Linked DNA regions of Homo sapiens: region 2 is linked to region 1. The links come from fine-mapping of genetic effects on gene expression. Tissue or cell type: nasal epithelium. Region 1 holds a variant in brackets; the other region holds the start of a gene. All regions are shown on one strand. Distances are from middle to middle.

Region 1 (8,556 bases):
AATGACTTGGAGCTTTCAAGAACAACAGTTTAGAAACTAGGCATGACAAAGGGTAGTCAAATCTTTCAGTTCAGGGTATAAAGCACCTTAAAAAATATTTTATACTTAGTATCACTGAACTATACACTTAAAAATGGTTAAAATGGGCTGGATGTGGTGGCTTATGCCTGTAATCCCAGCACTTTGGGAGTCTGAGGCGGGAGGATAACTTGAGCCAGGAGTTCAAGACCAGCCTCGGCAACATAGCAAGACCTTGTCTCCACAAAAAATAAAAATAAAAAAATTAGCCACATATGGTGGTGCATGTCTGTGGTCCAGATATTCGGGAGGCTGGGGTGGGAGGATTACTTGAGCCTGGGAGGTTGAGGCTGCAGTGAGGTGAGCCGTGACCGCATAACTGCACTCCAGCCTGGGCAACAGAGTGAGACCTGGTCTCAAAAATAAAAGGTTAAAAAGGTCAATTTTACGTTGTGTACATTTTACCGTAAGAAAAAAAGTTTTAAAGAAGAATTACCCAAGAGAGCTTATCCACAAGTGTGTGACTCATTCAGTTGGGTGGAAGCCAATTTCCAGGGCAGGAAGCTGTGAAATATTCATTTCTGAATAAGCAAGATGAACACCTGTGAGAGGGCTCGTTGGCAAGTCGTGTTTCAGAGCCACACAGCAACATTAGCTTTTAAAACAATGATACTTTAAGCATGGCTTCTATTCAGTCACAGGCTCCCTTCACAGAAGGAAGGTGGAAAAAGCTCACGTGAACGTTGCTTTCCTGTCCTTGGACTTCTGACATCCCTCGGGCCAGCCCTCAGCAGTGAGCCAACCCGCAAGTCCTGCTCAGGATCCAGTGGGAAGGCAGCTGTCCTCTTGGATGATCCTGGCACCATATTGGAAGGAGTCCATCTGTGGAGGCCATCAGAGATTTGATCACCTCAGCTGTTGTTCAGCTCCTCCGGGGACTGGGGGAATTTTCGTGCCATTGGTGTTGACAATGACATAATCCTAGCTCTAAGTCGTCTAAGTGTGTTTCTCCACAGATACACATCAAGTACTAGGTGGTGCCATTCTGTCCCACACAACTGTACAATAAGTCTTCTCAAAGGCTGAGAAGACTCACCATACAGAGCTTCATTCCTTGAAACCCTAAGCTGGAACCCTGAAACCTTATTTTTTCTTTCAGCTACCATAAGGCTGAAATTAACCATAGCCTTCCCAAGGATTGGTTTCTTCTCAAAGAGTTTTAACTTATAAATAGGACCAAAGATTTTAAAAATACAAATGTTTGTCATTAAATGAAGTCATGCAAGTGAAAGTGCCTAGAATAGTACTTGGCTCATAGCTGGTACATGGGAAAGTCTTGTTTTCCACCTCCATGTACTCCAGACGCAGCTTAGAAAATCAGGTAACTTGGCCGGGCTCGGTGGCTCATGCCTATAATCCCAGCACTTTGGGAGGCTGAGGCAGGCGGATCACGAGGTCAGGAGTTTGAGACCAGCCTGGTCAACATAGCGAAACCCCATCTCTATCAAAAAACAAAAAATTAGCTGGGCGTGGTGGCGGGCACCTGTAATCCCAGCTACTTGGGAGGCTGAGGTGGGAGGATCGCTTGATCCTGGGAGGCAAAGGTTGGAGTAACCTATGATCACACCACTGCACTCCAGCCTAGGTGACAGAGTGAGACCCTGTCTCAAAAAAAAAAGGCAGAGCTGAATAAGACCGTTACTGTCACAGGGCTTTCTTCAATAAATGCTAGTCACTATTTTGTTTGTTTGTTTGTTTGTTTGTTTTTGAGACGGAGTCTGGCTCTGTGACCCAGGCTGGAGTGTAGTGGCATGATCTCAGCTCACTGCAACCTCCACCTCCCAGGTTCAAGTGATTCTCCTGCCTCAGCCTCCTGAGTAGCTGGGATTACAGGTGCCCACCACCACACCTGGCTAATTTCTGTATTTTTAGTAGAGACAAGGTTTCGCTATGTTGGCCAGGCTGGTCTTGAAATCCTAACCTGAAGTGATCCTCCTGCCTCGGCCTCCCAAAGTGCTGGGATTTCAGGTGTGGGCCACTGTTCCGGCACTTTTTTTTTTTTTTTTTTTTTTTTTGAGGCAGGGTCTCGCTCTGCCACCCAGTGGCAGTGACTGGAGGGCAGTGACTGGACATGGCTCACTACTACAGTCTCTATCTCCTGGGCTCAAGCAATCCTCCTGCCTCAGCCTCCCAAGTAGCTGGGACCACAGGCATGTACCACCACGCCCAGCTAAGCCACTATTATTAATAAATGTTTGCCTTAGAACAAAATTGACTACATTATACCTCAATGTCTGATCACTCTTCCTACATTTTCACTTTTTTTCCATCACTCTTCTGATCAAAATCTCCTAGAAGCTGGGCATGGTGGTACGCACTTGTGGCCCCAGCTACCTGGAGGCTGAGGCAGAAGGATTCCTTGAGCTCAGGAGTTCAAGACCAGCCTGGGCAACATAGCGAGACCCTGTCTCATAATGAATGAATTAATTAATTAAAAAATCTTCCAGGGTCCTGCTCCATGTGGATAAAACCCCAACTCCTTAGCTTAAGTAGAACTTTTTTTTCCTTTTAAAGCTAGAAGGAGCTTTATTGATAATTTATTTTCTTATTTCATTTTTTAGATTTGCCTTGGCATATAGACCTTTGAAAAAATATATATATAGTTGTAATTATTAATAGTTTTGGGGGTACAAGTGGTTTTTGGTTACATGGATGAATTGTATAGTGGTGAAGTCTAAGAGGATTTATTTTATCTCTGTTTAAAAAGCACATTTAGGATTGTTTGAATGTTTCTTTCAACACTATTTTTGTAAAGCTTATTTTGTAATTACTAGCCAGTCACAAGAAAATGAATCCATCAGAATGAACTTCTTAGCAGCTCTGAAAACCTACCGATAATCCAGTGGCACCCAGTCCCGGCTGCACATTAAAATCACCTCGGGCCTTTAAAAACACACCAGCGCCTGGGCCCAACCCCCAGAAATTCCAATCTAATTGGTCTGGGGCGTGGCTGAACACTGGGATTTTTTTTTTTTTTTTTTTAAAGCTCCCAGGTGAGTCAAATGTGCAGCCAGCGTTGAGTGGCACTGTTGTCACCTCTGTTTCTTCACACCTGAGCCTTCGTCTGTCGGCTCATCTGCAGCCACACAGTTCTCAGGTTCTTCCTCCTGGGCCCCATTTGTCTGGGATAGGCCGAACTCACCCCAGTTCCTGCCCTGGAGCAATTATACAGACGTACCTTCTAAAGCAAACAAGCCTTGTCTTCAAATCAGGCCACAAACACACCTTGACCCGCCCTCATAACTTCCTGGATTCTTGATCCGGTTTATGGTTTACTGATAACATCCTGGATAGAGAACCAGTTTCAGACTTTCGGTGACCTAGTCACCCCTTGGCTGGGGCTGGAATTTCATGTTGTCTGGGCTCCTTGATGGTCCCAGAATGGTGGTGATTATTTTTCTTTGGTCCTTGGTGCTGCATCCCCTGAGTGCCAGCTTGATAGGTTCTAGTTTCTTAGCTTTTGCAAACTGGAGCTTTCATTTTGCAGTTCTAAACTGCCTCGCCCCCACCAGCCCCCAACCTCAGCCACTGGAGCCTTACAGGTCACCAGCTTCCGCTTACTCTTCTGATAAAGGACTAGGTGATGAACTGAACATTGAAAAACAAGGAAGAGAGAAATTTGGAATAAGTTAATCTAGGGAAAGGGGGGGCAGTCTTTTGGGTTGATCCAACACAATTTACCTTTCCTTTCCTTTTCTTTTTTTTAATAGGGACAGGGTCTTGCTATGTTGCCCAGGCTGGTCTCAAACTCCTGGACTCAAGTGATCCTCCCACCTCATCCTCCCAAAGTGCTGAGATTACAGACATGAGCCACAGTACCTGGCCACAATTTACCTTCTCTTTGGTGTCTTAGGAACCTGAGGATAATGCATGGGGTATTCCAGTAGACTGTGCAAAACCCACCATCTTCCCATTTTGATATCATGGTTTCTGCTACTCATCTATTCCTGCCTCCTTTTTTGCTTTCCCCTATTTTATCACATGTGGCACAAGAAACCCAAATAGAAAAGCACAATTACTTCTATAGTCAGAGCAAGAATGAGATTTCAGAATCAAAGGAACCATGTTGGACTACGGAGTAGGCAAGAGTTACAGGTGACAAGGATTCAACATGTATACAGTTCCCTAATACAAGGCTTGCACCACTTGTCTGGGAAGGCCATGCTCTTAATGAATGTCCCTGCAGTAGACTTGAGACTCATCATCTTGTCCCTCCTTGCCTTGAGTCATGCCAGTGTAACAGACTCGCAGGACACAGCCACAAGTCCCATTGTAGAAGCAGGTGCTACCTCTCACATCAGCTCACTACATCCCTTCTGCAGTTGTCAGCTGAGAGCCACCGAGTTCACAGTCTGTTCAGGGGAACTCAAGACATTAAAATCAACTAAAAGATGCATCAAGAATGAGGGAATCCGGTTGGGTGCAGCGGCTCCCACCTATAATCTTAGCACTTTGGGAGGCCAAGGCGGGCAGATCATATGAGGTCAGAAGTTTGAGACCAGCCTGGCCAACATGGTGAAACCCCATCTCTACTAAAAATACAAAAAATTAGCCCAGCATGGTGGTGTGCACCTGTAATTGCAGCTACTGGGGAGGCTGAGGCACAAGAATCACTTGAACCCAGGAAGCGGAGGTTGCAGTGAGCTGAGATCGCACCATTGCACTCTAGCCTGGGTGACAGAGCGAGACTGTTTCAAAAAAAAAAAAAAGAATGAGGAAATCTACACTAAGGAATGAGAACTGTGGGCAATTTACTCTATAATTAAAGTTACTTATATAAGTCAGAACAATAAATAATATAGGGTAATTCTCTACATCTTGGTGAAACCTTTGGTAAATTTCTTTGTGGAGTTCCCTTATTTCCATTTTTTGTTGTTTGTTTGTTTGTTTTGAGGCAGGGTCTCACTCTGTCACCCAGGCTGGAGTAGTAGTGCGATTGTGGCTCACTGCAGCCTCAACTTCCTGGGCTCAAGGCTCCCTCTTCAGCCTCCTAAGTAACTGGGACCACAAGCACATGCCACCA[C/T]GCCCAGCTAATTTATTATTATTATTATTATTATTATTATTATTATCTGTAGATATGGGGTTGCACTATGGCTGCCTAGGCTGGTCTTGAACTCCTGGGCTCAAACAATCCTCGCCTCAGCCTCCCAAAGTGTTGGATTACAGGCGTGAGCCACCGTGCCCAGCCTGGAGTTTTCTGTTTCTCATGGTTTATCTCAGCATCAGCATCCCATTCTAGTCTGCAATGGAAAAGTCATTTCCTTACAGCATGAGCCTTACTGCTAATTCCAAAAATTTCATGTTCACAGTTAGCAATCACTCAACCTTCAGACAGTACTAAAACATTTTATTTGATTATTTTTAAAAAGCACCAGAAAAAAAGTGTTGATTACAGAAAATTGGGAAAATATGAAAAGTATAATAAAAAAGTAAAATGAGCCATAATCTTCCCACTCACATATAACAGTGTGAATTGTTTCTTTCTAGTTTTTCTTTTTCTTATACTGTATATATATTCATATACATGCATTGTTTGACAAAAAATTAGATCACACTGTAAACTGCTTCTTAAAGTTACTTTTTAAAATGAGTTTTGGCTAGGCACGGTAACTCACACCTGTAATCCCAGTACTTTGGGAGGCCGAGGCGGGCAGATCACAAGGTCAGGAGTTCAAGACCAGCCTGGCCAACATGGTGAAACCCTGTCTACTAAAAATATAAAAATTAGATGGGCGTGGTACCAGGTGCCTGTAATCCCAGCTACTGGGGAGGCTGAGGCAGGAAATTGCTTAAACCGGGAGGCAGAGGTTTCAGTGAGCCGAGATTGCACCACTGCACTCCAGCCTGGGCGACAGAGCAAGACTCTGTCATGGAAAATAAATAAATAAGTTTTAAGGTACAAAAACATGAGTTTAAAGGACTGCATTTATTCATTAGAAGGGCATGCAACATAAAACAAAAGGACTGTACTTAATGACTGCATCCCATTGTTAAAAAATTTAATATATTACATATATGTCACAGTTTATTTCCCTACTGTTGAAAATTTAAACTATTTTCAATTTTCAAATGTTATAAAAAAAACCCAGTCAACTATCCATAATTATAAATGTTTAGGAACTTCCTTAATTATTTCCTTAGGATAAATTTCCTGAAAATGGAATTACTGGCTCAAAGTTATAAATATGTTTAAGACTCTTGAAATGCACATTCAAGTTGCTCTCCAGACAAGTTGCACAAGGCTGGGAATGGTGGCTCATGCCTGTCATCCCAGCAGTTTGGGAACCCAAGGTAGGAGGATCACCTGAGGTCAGGAGTTTGAGACCAGCCTGGCCAACAGTGGTGAAGCCCCATCTCTACTAAAAATACAAAAATTAGCCGGGTGTGGTGGTGGGCACCTGTAATCCCAGCTACTCAGGAGGCTGAGGCAGGAGAATCGCTTAAACCCGGGAGATGGAGGTTGCAGTGAGTTGAGATTGTGCCGCTGCACTCTTGCCTGGGCGGCAGAGCGAGACTCCATCTCAAAAAAAAAAAAAAAAAAAAAGAAAGAAAAATGAAAAGTTGCACCAATATATATTTCTACCACAAATATCTGAAAGTTTGTTGTTCACAGGGCCTGTGCCTGTGTGGTTTTAGCAGTTAAAGCTCCACATTTCACAAGAGTCCTCTGCAGGACATGAGAAGTCCCAGTTTTTAGCAATGAATGTGGAAGACTGAGGTCAAGTACAAAACTTGCATGGCAATCAAAAAATTGGGGTTGAAAGCAACACTGGTTTCGGTGTCAAGCGGTTAGTGCACAGACTGTCCACCTTCCATGGTCATTGGCCACTGATACTGATTTGCAGTTCCCAGTAATAGACATTATTATTAGGGACAAGGGCTGCTATAATTCTTGCTGGGCATGATAGGACTTCAGTGCACAACTCACATGCTTTGTTACTGTGAGCATGGACAGTCTGGCTCTGCCTTTGCCTGTGGAGTAACTGTTGTGCTTTGTTTGTATTGAGATAGTGTAGTTTAATCTTTAACACTGTGACTATTACGATCAGGTTTTCTAAGAGTTCAGATTACAATACCAATGCCAGCATGACCCAGTAGTCACTGAAAAGGAAGGCTAAACAACTGTGTCATTTTAATGACAGTTGGAAGGACAGGGTGCCTGATTAAGGAGGCAAATAGCAGAAACAGCACATACTTGATGGGTGGGGTGTGGTAGACAGGAGAATAAGGCACATATGGAGCAGATTCTCACAAGTCTGGGGTTAGACAGGCAAGACTTTCTCAATCAAAAGGTTTTTTGGGTTTTTGTTTGTTTGTTTTTGAGACAGGGTCTTACTCTGTCACCCAGGCTGGAGTGCAGTAGTGTGATCATGGCTCACTGCAGCCTCAAACTCCTGGGTTCAAGCAATCCTCCTTCCTCAGCCTCCTGGTAGCTGGGACTACAGGTGCACACTACTGCACCCCACTAATACTTTTTATTTTTTGTAGAAACAGTCTTGCTATGTTGCCCAGGTTGGTCTTGCACCAAGGATCCCTTGGCCTCCTGCCTCAGCTTCACCTGGCCAGAAGTTTTTCTGTTTCTTCAAAAGACACCAAAAAGGCTGGGTGTGGTGGCTCACACCTGTAATCCCAGCACTTTGAGAGGCAAACGTGAGATCACTTGAGGCTAAGAGTTTGAGACCAGCCTGGGTAACATAGCAAGTCCCTATTGCTACAAAAAATAAACCTATTAGCCAGGCGGGGTGGTGCGCACCTGTCTCAGCTGCAGGGAGGCTGAGGAAGTAGGATCACTTGAGGAAGTAGGATCACTTGAGCCCAGGAGTTCAAGGCTGCAATGAGCCCTAATGGCACCACTGCACTCTGGCCTGGGTGACAGAGTGAGACTCCATCTAAAAAAAAAAAAAAAGAATTGGCTTGAGCATACCACGCTAAAGAACACACATTATCATATCGTTCCCTTGATTGCTCTATGAAACACCAGTATTTCAAAGAATGGGTTAGATCACACCAACAACAGTCACCATGAAGGGAACCAGAACATGCCACGTTGGCATATTGACTCTTTTGAGATGAAGGCAATTGAGAAATAGCAGATGTGGGAAGAGCTCTCTGTCCTCCCACCTGTCTAAAAATAAGGCATATATTTCCCCTCAAAACAGGTAACTCTCTCCTTGCCCCAGAACAGAAGAGCGTTTTGATAACTGGATACAGGGAGAAGACATTGAGACCAGTTTGCATAAACACACCTTACTCATGAAACCCTTATCTTCCATTAGTTCTCCCATATATTTTTGTTGTTGTTGTTTGAAACAGAGTCTCGCTGTCTCCCAGGCTGGAGTGCAGTGGCGCAATCTCGGCTTACTGCAATCTTTGCCTTCCAGGTTCAAGCGATTCTCCTACCTCAGCCTCCCGAGTAGCTGGGATTACAGGTGCCTGCCACTACACCCTGCTAATTTTTGTATTTTTAGTAGAGACGGG
Region 2 (8,556 bases), 24 kb after region 1:
CCTCTCTTTTCAGTTTCAGCTTAAGTTTAAACACAATATTTCCATAGAAATGTTCTCTTGTTCTCTTTTTCTGCCTGCTTTGACTCTGTTTAAAAAGCCAGATTCAAGCTAGCACCAGGACGTGCCATTTAAAAATTAAATTTACCTGGTTATAAAAGAGATATAAAGTGACGTATGGAATCTTGGGACATTCCAAATCCTTATTTTTTATAACCTGAATGTAGGGAGGTGGTAATTAGGATGTGTGTTTAAGACAAGAGTACCAACCTGTGGTAACCAGTCTGGGGCCATGGCAAAGGTGACTTCAACACTAAATAAGAGCAAAAGAACAGTAGGGCAAAACAATTTCAATATAAAATCATACCCTTTATGATCTTTTTTAAAAAAAAAAAAAGATAGTGATGGTAGATAGTAATTTTTGTGTGCATTCTTTTTCAAATAATTTACTCGGTGACCTAGCACAATGGCTCACACCTGTAATTCCAACACTTTGGGAGGCTGAGGTGGGAGGATCACTTGAGGTCATGGGTTCAAGACCAGAGTGGGTAACATAGCGAGACACTGTTTCTACAAAAAATTTAAAAATCAGCTGGGCATGGTGGTGCATGCTTGTAGTCCCAGCTACTTGGGAGGCTAAGGTGGGAGGATCGCTTGAGCCTGGGAGGTTGAGGCTGCAGTGAGCTAAGATGGTGCCACTGCACTCCAGCCTGGGCACAGAATGAGACCCTGTCTCAAAAAAATATATACTTGCTAAAATTAAGAAGCTGTCATAGTGTCAAACACTGAGATTGGCAATCCTAATTTGGTTATCCTGATGTTGTTTACTTTATTGGGCTGTGAAAATCAAAGGACCTGCTGCACTAAACCCACTGCTGGTCTAGATGAGACCTCCTGAAGTGCAGAGGCAGTGCCCCTAAGAAAGAAATTTCCTTTTTTAAAAAAGAGGGCCTTCTGGGGTAGCATTTTCTATTTTTAACCTTTTTTGAAATTTTGATAAAAAACACGTAACATAAAACTTACTATTGGCCAGGCACAGTGGCTCACACCTGTAATCCCAGCATTTTGGGGGGGCTGAGGTGGGTGGATCACTTGAGGTCAAGAGTTTGAGACCAGCCTGGCCAACATGGTGAATCCCCATCTCTATTAAAAATATAAAAATTAGCTGTGTGTGATGGTGCACACCTGTAATCCCAGTCACTCTGGAGGCTGAGGCAGGAGAATCACTTGAACCCAGGAGGCAGAGACTGCAGTGAGCAGAGATCATGTCACTCACTGCATTCCAGCCTGGGCGACAGAGCAAGACTCCATCTCAAACAAACAAACAAACAACAACAAAAAGCTTACCATCTTGGCTGGGTGTAATGGCTCACACCTGTAATCCTAGTGCTTTGGGAGGCTGAAGTGAGGAGGATTACTTGAGGCCAAGAGTTCAAGACCAGCCTGGACAACATAGCGAGACTCCATCTCTACCAAAAAATGAAATATAAAAATTAGCTAGGTGTCGTGGTGCGTACCTGTAATTCCATCTAGGTGAGAGGCTGAAGCAGGAAAATCGCTTGAGCCCAGGAGTTTGAGGCTGCAGTGAGCTATGATCACACCACTGCACTCCAGTCTGGGCAAACAGAGCGAGATCCTGTCTCTAAAAAAACCCAAAAAACCTTACTGCCTTAACCACTCTTAAGTGGTTAGGTGGCGTTAAGTACATTTACATTGTTGTGCAACCATCACCACCATTCATTTCCGCAGCTGAAATCTTCCCAAGCCGAATCTCTGCACCCATTGAATACTAACTCCTCATACCCCCTTCTCCTAGCCCTTAGTAACCTCCAGTCTACTTTCTATCTCCATGAATTTGACTACCATGTGTATCTCATATATGTAGAACCATGCAGTGGTTGTTCTTTTGTGTCTGGCTTATTTCACCTAGCATAATGTTTTCAAGGCCCATCATCCATGTTGCAGCATGTTTCAGAATTTCCTTTCTTTTAAAGGTATTTTTAGACCGGACACAGTGGCTTATGCCTGTAATCCCAGCACTTTGGGAGACTGAGGTGGGTGGATCACCTGAGGTCAGGAGTTCGAGACCAGCCTGGTCAACATGGCAAAACTACGTCTCTACTAAAAATATGAAAATTAGCCAGGATTGGTGGCACATGCCTGTAATCCCAGCTACTGTCGAGGTTGAGGCATGAGAGTCGCTTGAAGCCAGGAGGTGGAGGTTGCAGTGAGCCGAGATCATGCCACTGTACTCCAGCCTGGGTGACAGAGCTAGATCCATCTCAAAAAAAAAAAAGTATTTTTATACTTTTTGACAACATTGCTTGTATTGAAGATACTCAATAACAGGATGGTTGGTAAAAGGGCAAGTCTTACCAGCTTTCTGTATTTACTCATCTGTAAAATGGTTCTGAGTTCTATTACTATCATTTAAACACATCTAAGCAGGGGTCACAAACCCACAAGGTCCAGGCGCATGTGTGGTAAAGCCACCTGGAGGGGGGCCGTGGTGAAGTGGAGAGACGGGTCTCTGATAAAGGTGGCTGCTGCTATTTAGTTCCAATCCACTCTGTCCAATATGTAATGTAGGCCCAGTACTGCATGCACAAATCTGATTTCACACTCTGTTACCCAAGCTGGTCTCAAACTCCTGGCCTCAAGCAATCCTCCTGCCTCAGCATCCTAAAATGCTGGGATTCCAGGTGTGAGCCCCTGCACCTGGCCACAAATCTGATTTTTATGTGTTGGCCAACACTGTTGGGCCAAACAGAACATGTTTGCGTGCTGGCTCTGGCACCCAGGCCACCTGTTAGAATGTCTGCCAGGGCTAATAAAAAGCTAATTTTAGTGTGGCCTCATTCATTAATTCATGCAATTAATGTTTATGGGTCTCTACTAAAGGCTAGGTTACACATATGTTAATCTTATTTAAAAATGTACCTATTTTACTAGGTATTAGTATCATATCCACTTTTCATATTAAAGACAAGCCCAGAGCGGTCAAATAACTTGCCCCTGGTCACACAGTGGGAAGCGCTGAGGTGGGCTTTGAACTCAGATGGTTTTCAGAGCCCAAGGTCCTGTCTCAAAGGAGGGGGACTCACAGGACAATGTTAACCCGTGGACCTATGGACACTCCCAGAAAACGTGATTTGCAACTTGTCGTGAAGGACGAGCTCAGCAAACAAGGCCGGACGTCAATCCAGGCAGAGGAAATAACTTGAGCCAGGGATCAAACACTAAGATTGGCAGGAAATGAGCAGGAAGAGGTAGCGGGGTCCCTGACGCCATCTATTCAATTGTTTTTCAGAAGAGGTATCAGCTCTTGAAGGCTTACTTCTCAATACTGGCTGCGAGAGCAAGAATGGTGTGTAATTTACAAAAGCCGTCATTGCTGTAGGTAAGTTGTAGCAAACGACTCGCGCCCGAGCATTCCCGCCCCCGCCTTCGCTGCGGCCCCGCCCACGACGACCCTGGGGAACTACAAGTCCCGCCATACAGCGGGGAGCGCCCGGAGCTCGCGCCGGCCCCGCCCCCAGCCCGGTCCCCACCCCCGGCTCCGCCCCCGGCCCCCTCCCGCCGGGTCAACCCCGAAGAGTCGCCGGTGGCCGCGGCAGACGGAAGCCGAACGAGTTCCTCGGCGGCTGCAGGATGGGGGACTCCAAAGTGAAAGTGGCGGTGCGGATACGACCCATGAACCGGCGAGGTGAGAGCCGAGCCCTCCTGGGCCGCCGGGGCGGAGGCGGCAGGTGCCTGGCGCGCCCTTCCCTCGGCCGCCGTGGGGGGTCCGGCGGCCCCGCCCCTATAGTCAGCGGCGGGGCGCGAGGAGGGGCCCGGGGACCCTGAAACCCGCTCCCGCGCTGAGACGCCCGGCTCCCTCTTCTCCCCTCCCTTCCCCCCTGGCCAGCCCCGTCCCTGGCGCCGTCGGGCCCCTCGTGCCGGCCCCGCTGCCCCTTCCGCCTGCGCCCGCCCCGCCCCTGCGCCCTTTTGCCCTCTCGTCTCCCCCGGAGGTTCCCGAGGGCGCCCTCGGCCCTCGCGCCCAGCCTCGTCCTGGCCCCTCAGCCTCGCTCCTTCCCCGCCAGCTGTCATCGTCGCCCCCGCGCGCGGGTCGCCAGCCCCTGCAGCCCGCCTCGGGACCGCCCGGGACCCCCCGGGACCCCGCGTCTCGCCCGGGTCGCCCAAGCCTGCACCGCCTTGGCCCGCGGCGGGAAGAAGGGCAGGGGGCCAGGCGGGTGCCCCGCGGCGAGTTCCTTCCACCTGGGCGTCCTGAGATTGGGGTCAGGTGGAGGAGATGCCCTTTTCGTTGTTTTTGGACAGTTGAGAAAGTTTTGGTTTTGCCTGAAGTCTCATTCATCATCTCTCAATAAATAGCTAAAGTGCCAAGATTCTTGTGGAATTGTATCTTTCTGACATTCTCTTAACTCTGCAGGGAGTGTAGAGAAGGCAGATAAACCGAGTACATTTAAATAATCTGTAGACCCGGGGAGTGGAGAGAACCCCAAAAGTCAGGGGAGGAGGTGGGCTGGGTCTTGGCTTTGATAGTCAAAGCAGCATGACTGGGTGAGTTGCTTTAAATAAGATAATGTGTTTGAAAACGCTTTATATACAAGGTCCTGTCATTGGGGGTCACTATTACTGTCTCAGGAGATGACTTTGCCATTGATGAGACTTTGAACTAATTAGAATCATTTAAGTACCAGAGACAAAGTTGTAGCTTCTTAGCAAAATCAAGTGTTGTTTAATTTTTATGTAGAAATTATAGGTTGTTTTCCTCTTCTTTGCTTTCTTTTGTATATATTGAGACATACAGATCAACCAGTTGACATAAGCTTTGTTGGTTTGTCCTTCTCGGGGAAATTGGTTTCTCGCTTGGAGTTATCTCATCTATGGGAATTGTTTTGTCCTGTTCCTGCTAGGTCCGATTAAAGCTGTCAGGTGAGTTTTTTTCCCTAAGAACTTAATTACTTTAAGTTCTCAACTAGTGCAAGATTGAGTCCTGCTTTGCTTCACTAATCTCGTGCTCTGACAACACACAATAAACGTCGATACAATTCTGAAAATTTTCAGAAGCATCAGTTTTTAAATATTCAGGTATCTGTATTTCAGTTTACTTCCAGTTTACCATCACAATAATTTAAAGAAAGAAGCCAAATGAAACATAACTTATCTGGGAATTGATTCTGAAAGGATGGTTTCAGCACATTCTTAAAATTTCCTTTTCACAAAAAACTTGGAAATGTCAGTGCTAAAAAGAGGCCGCTAACCAACCACCACAAAAGACATCTCAGATATTTAGAGCCCTTTCCCTCTCCCTTTCCCCATTGGTTTCACTTTTTGAGGGAAATTCTTATGCTTTTCTCTTATAAATTGCCATTGATAAGGTTGTAATAAACATCAGAGTTTAGAGGAAGGCAAAGAATAATAGTTTTAGCTGTGGAACGGATGTGAGCTGATCCTTGGGTTCAACAATCATTTTGAAATTGAGGTTTACCCATAGATTCCATTAGCCTATATAGAGAAGTGCATTATTTGGTGTAAAGTACCTCCTGTGTTCACTTAGTGCCCATTCTTAGCCTTATATTTCCTGACGTGCATGTGGACTTCTTTTTTCAGTGATTACCACACATAAATTTGTTCTTTTCCATTTTTGTTATGAAGTAATTGTTCACATAAATATAAAGGTTATTATGGAATACAGTGTGGTGGGATTGTAAATCCAGTGATTTTTAAAAATTGGTGTCCAAAGTTTGTATAAAAAGACTAAAACAGGCCAGGCACGGTGGCTTACGCTTATAATCCCAGCACTTTGGGAGGCCGAGGCGGGTGGATCACCTGAGGTCAGGAGTTCGAGACCAGCCTGCCTAACATGGCAAAACCCTGTCTCTACTAAAAATACAAAAAATTAGCCGGGCGTGGTGGTGGACGCCTGTAATCCCAGCTACTAAGGAGGCTGAGGCGGGAGAATAGCCTGAACCCAGGAGGCGGAGGTTGCAGTGAGCCAAGATCGTGCCACTGTGCTCCACCCTGGGCGACAAGAGTGAAACTCTGTCTCAAAAAAAAAAAAGACTAAAACAAAACCATATTTCTTTCCAGTAATTTCCTTTTTTTTCTTCCTTGTATGATCTGTAGGAACCTTTCCAGTAATTTTGAAAAGAATATTACTTTGAACAGTTATTAGTATTATGTAATACTGTATAATTATGACAAAGAGTAAAACTTGAGTCCTAATAGTTTCTATCATATAGGTGCCGGAAGCAACCTTATAAATCGCTATCTATAAAAGAGGACGGGGATGAGAATGGGTTACTGTGATGATGTAGTTTTACTGTGTAGACTCTGATATTTGGAATCACATTAGCTATCTTTTGAGGAAAATCTGAAAATTTCCAGAAAACTCTGGTGTATTAAGTTCTTGTGTGATTCAGTGGTTGTGCTTAGGTGTTTGGAGTTTTAAGGTGGTTAGCTGATTTATTATTTAACAGTTATCCTCGAAGTGAGAGTATTTTAGTCTTTCTGCTAAACTGTATGTGGGTTTGGGAACCTTAGTTATTTGAAGGTTAAGCATTAGGCCCTAATTCAGTAACAGGAAGAGTTGTAATGGCTAATTTGTCAGAAATATTTGTCTAGTCATACATTTATTTTAACATTCCACTAACAAAAGGAAAAAGAAAAAGAAAAAAGTTCACATACTTTCTTCATCCTAACAGCTTTTCATTTCCATGCCAGTTTGTGCTCACACGTGTATGTAATTTTACATAATTTTAATATTACAACCTTTATTTTGCCTTTCTTCATCTGAGATGCAAAGCTAAACAACTAGAGAAAAGGGTAAATTTTTGTCACAAGATCTTCAAGTTCTATTTGCAGATATCGTTTGTTTTCCAGTGTTGTTGTTCAGACTGTACAGCTAAACAGATAATTCTTGTGTGCTTCCATGTGCCGCACAGAACACCCATTCATACATTATTAACCCGTCTAATCATTACAGGAGCTGAAAGTTCTGTAGCCGTAATTGGTGGGATTAGTTAGATCAGCAACATTCTCCTTTCCAGGAATTTGATGTTTTCTAACTTTAGGTGGCTTAAAAAACATTTAATAGGTAAGCAAACATTGATTGAGTGCCTGCCAGGTATCTGGCTTATATTAGATAGGATGAGATCTTAATGCTTTTCCTCAAGGGATTTCCTGTGTGTAAATCTGTATAAGATCAACTACCAAAATAAGTAAATATCTATAAAAGGTGTTTGGAATACCTTTGTTACCTACCTAGCCTAAGGGGGTAGAACCGGGAAACGAAAGAAATGAAGATAGAAACAGTGAAATAGATTATTTCAGGTGTTAGGGAGAATGGACAAGAAATTTATTTCAGGAGATATTTCAAATGAGTTTACTTGGCATTTTCCAATACTTGATGTGGTGAAAGACACAGAAGTATGTAATAATGTCTAATAGAGTCAATGTAGAGTCAGTGCCTTGGTAATCATGATCTAGTATCTCAATGGAGGGACTATTATACAGCGATTAAAATGATGACAGTCAAAACCATTTAACAAGGAAGATCGTTTTCTCTGTTAGTGGAAAAAGAATGTAAAGCTGTACGTGTAACTGATCAAATCTATTATTATTACTATGTAAAAATGTATACAGGAATGGGCAAGAGCTAGAAAGAAACATGAAAAAGTGAAATTGATTGTTCTTGTTAGGGGGATTTTACTTCCTAAAAGTTTTCTTAGGGTTGCCTGTTACCATCATATTCAGTTTCTTAAAGCATGCTTTATGGTTCATGCCTGTGAGGAAATGACTGTCATGGGCTTGAAAAGAAAATGCCTGTGAAAAGATTAGATTAAAAGGTAAACAGCTGTAGCAGGCTGCTAGTTACTAAGTGCCAGGTGAATGACAGGGAAATAAGGGAATCGAGAGGAGTTTAGACTTCACTGAGGAGGGTGAACTTTGGTTGGACTTCCAGGGAGGAAGCTTATGATGTGAGCACGGGAGAGGGGATGGCATGTATTCTTTGAGGAGGAAGTATGGCCTGAGAGTGAGGACACAGAGACTAGAATGAGTAAAGCAGGTTTAGGCAGCAGAGATGAGATCTGCCTGCCAGAATGGAGATTCTGTGAGGATAGCTAGAGAATGATGGGACAGGAAAGGTCAGGTGGATTGCAGGAAGCCCTGAAAGCAGCCAGGCCAGAAGTCCGGACCTAGGGTGGCTGGTCCACGCACTCTGTTTTGCTTCTTGGGACCTTGTATGGGGCTTGGACACAAACACAACGGGGAAAGATTGCTAGATCCCAAAGCAAGATTGGAAGCTTCAGTAGATGACCGATTTCTGGCATAGCTGGGCAGGATTTAAAAGCGCTTGCTGAAAATGAAGCCTTGTGAATGGGAAGCATAAGGAAGTCGGTCAAAATTAAGCAGCTGTGAATCAACAGGCAAAGGAAAAACCCAGCAAGTGCGAGGAAGCTTAGAAGATGCTGGTAGTCAGTGAAGATAGAGGTGACCCTTAGGAAATGAAGGGACAGGAGAAGGTGGCTTTGACCCCTGGGGTCATTGGTGATT

Evidence for each region.
Region 2: KIF13B starts here. The variant in region 1 is fine-mapped to the expression of KIF13B in nasal epithelium (TOPMed, PIP above 0.99).

What each region holds. Positions count from the first base shown.
Region 1 is chr8:29,281,706-29,290,261 of GRCh38, reverse strand. It overlaps LOC124901922 (a long non-coding RNA gene), which reads left to right. Exons shown (of 3, transcript XR_007060874.1): 3 at 714-2,289. Among named protein-coding and RNA genes, the nearest start is that of KIF13B, 23 kb to the right of the region's middle. The variant C/T (reference allele first, on the strand shown) is at 5,102.
Region 2 is chr8:29,258,127-29,266,682 of GRCh38, reverse strand. It overlaps KIF13B (kinesin family member 13B), which reads left to right and starts at 3,613. Exons shown (of 40, transcript NM_015254.4): 1 at 3,613-3,703. The coding sequence starts at 3,649. RefSeq lists a silencer at 3,406-4,235.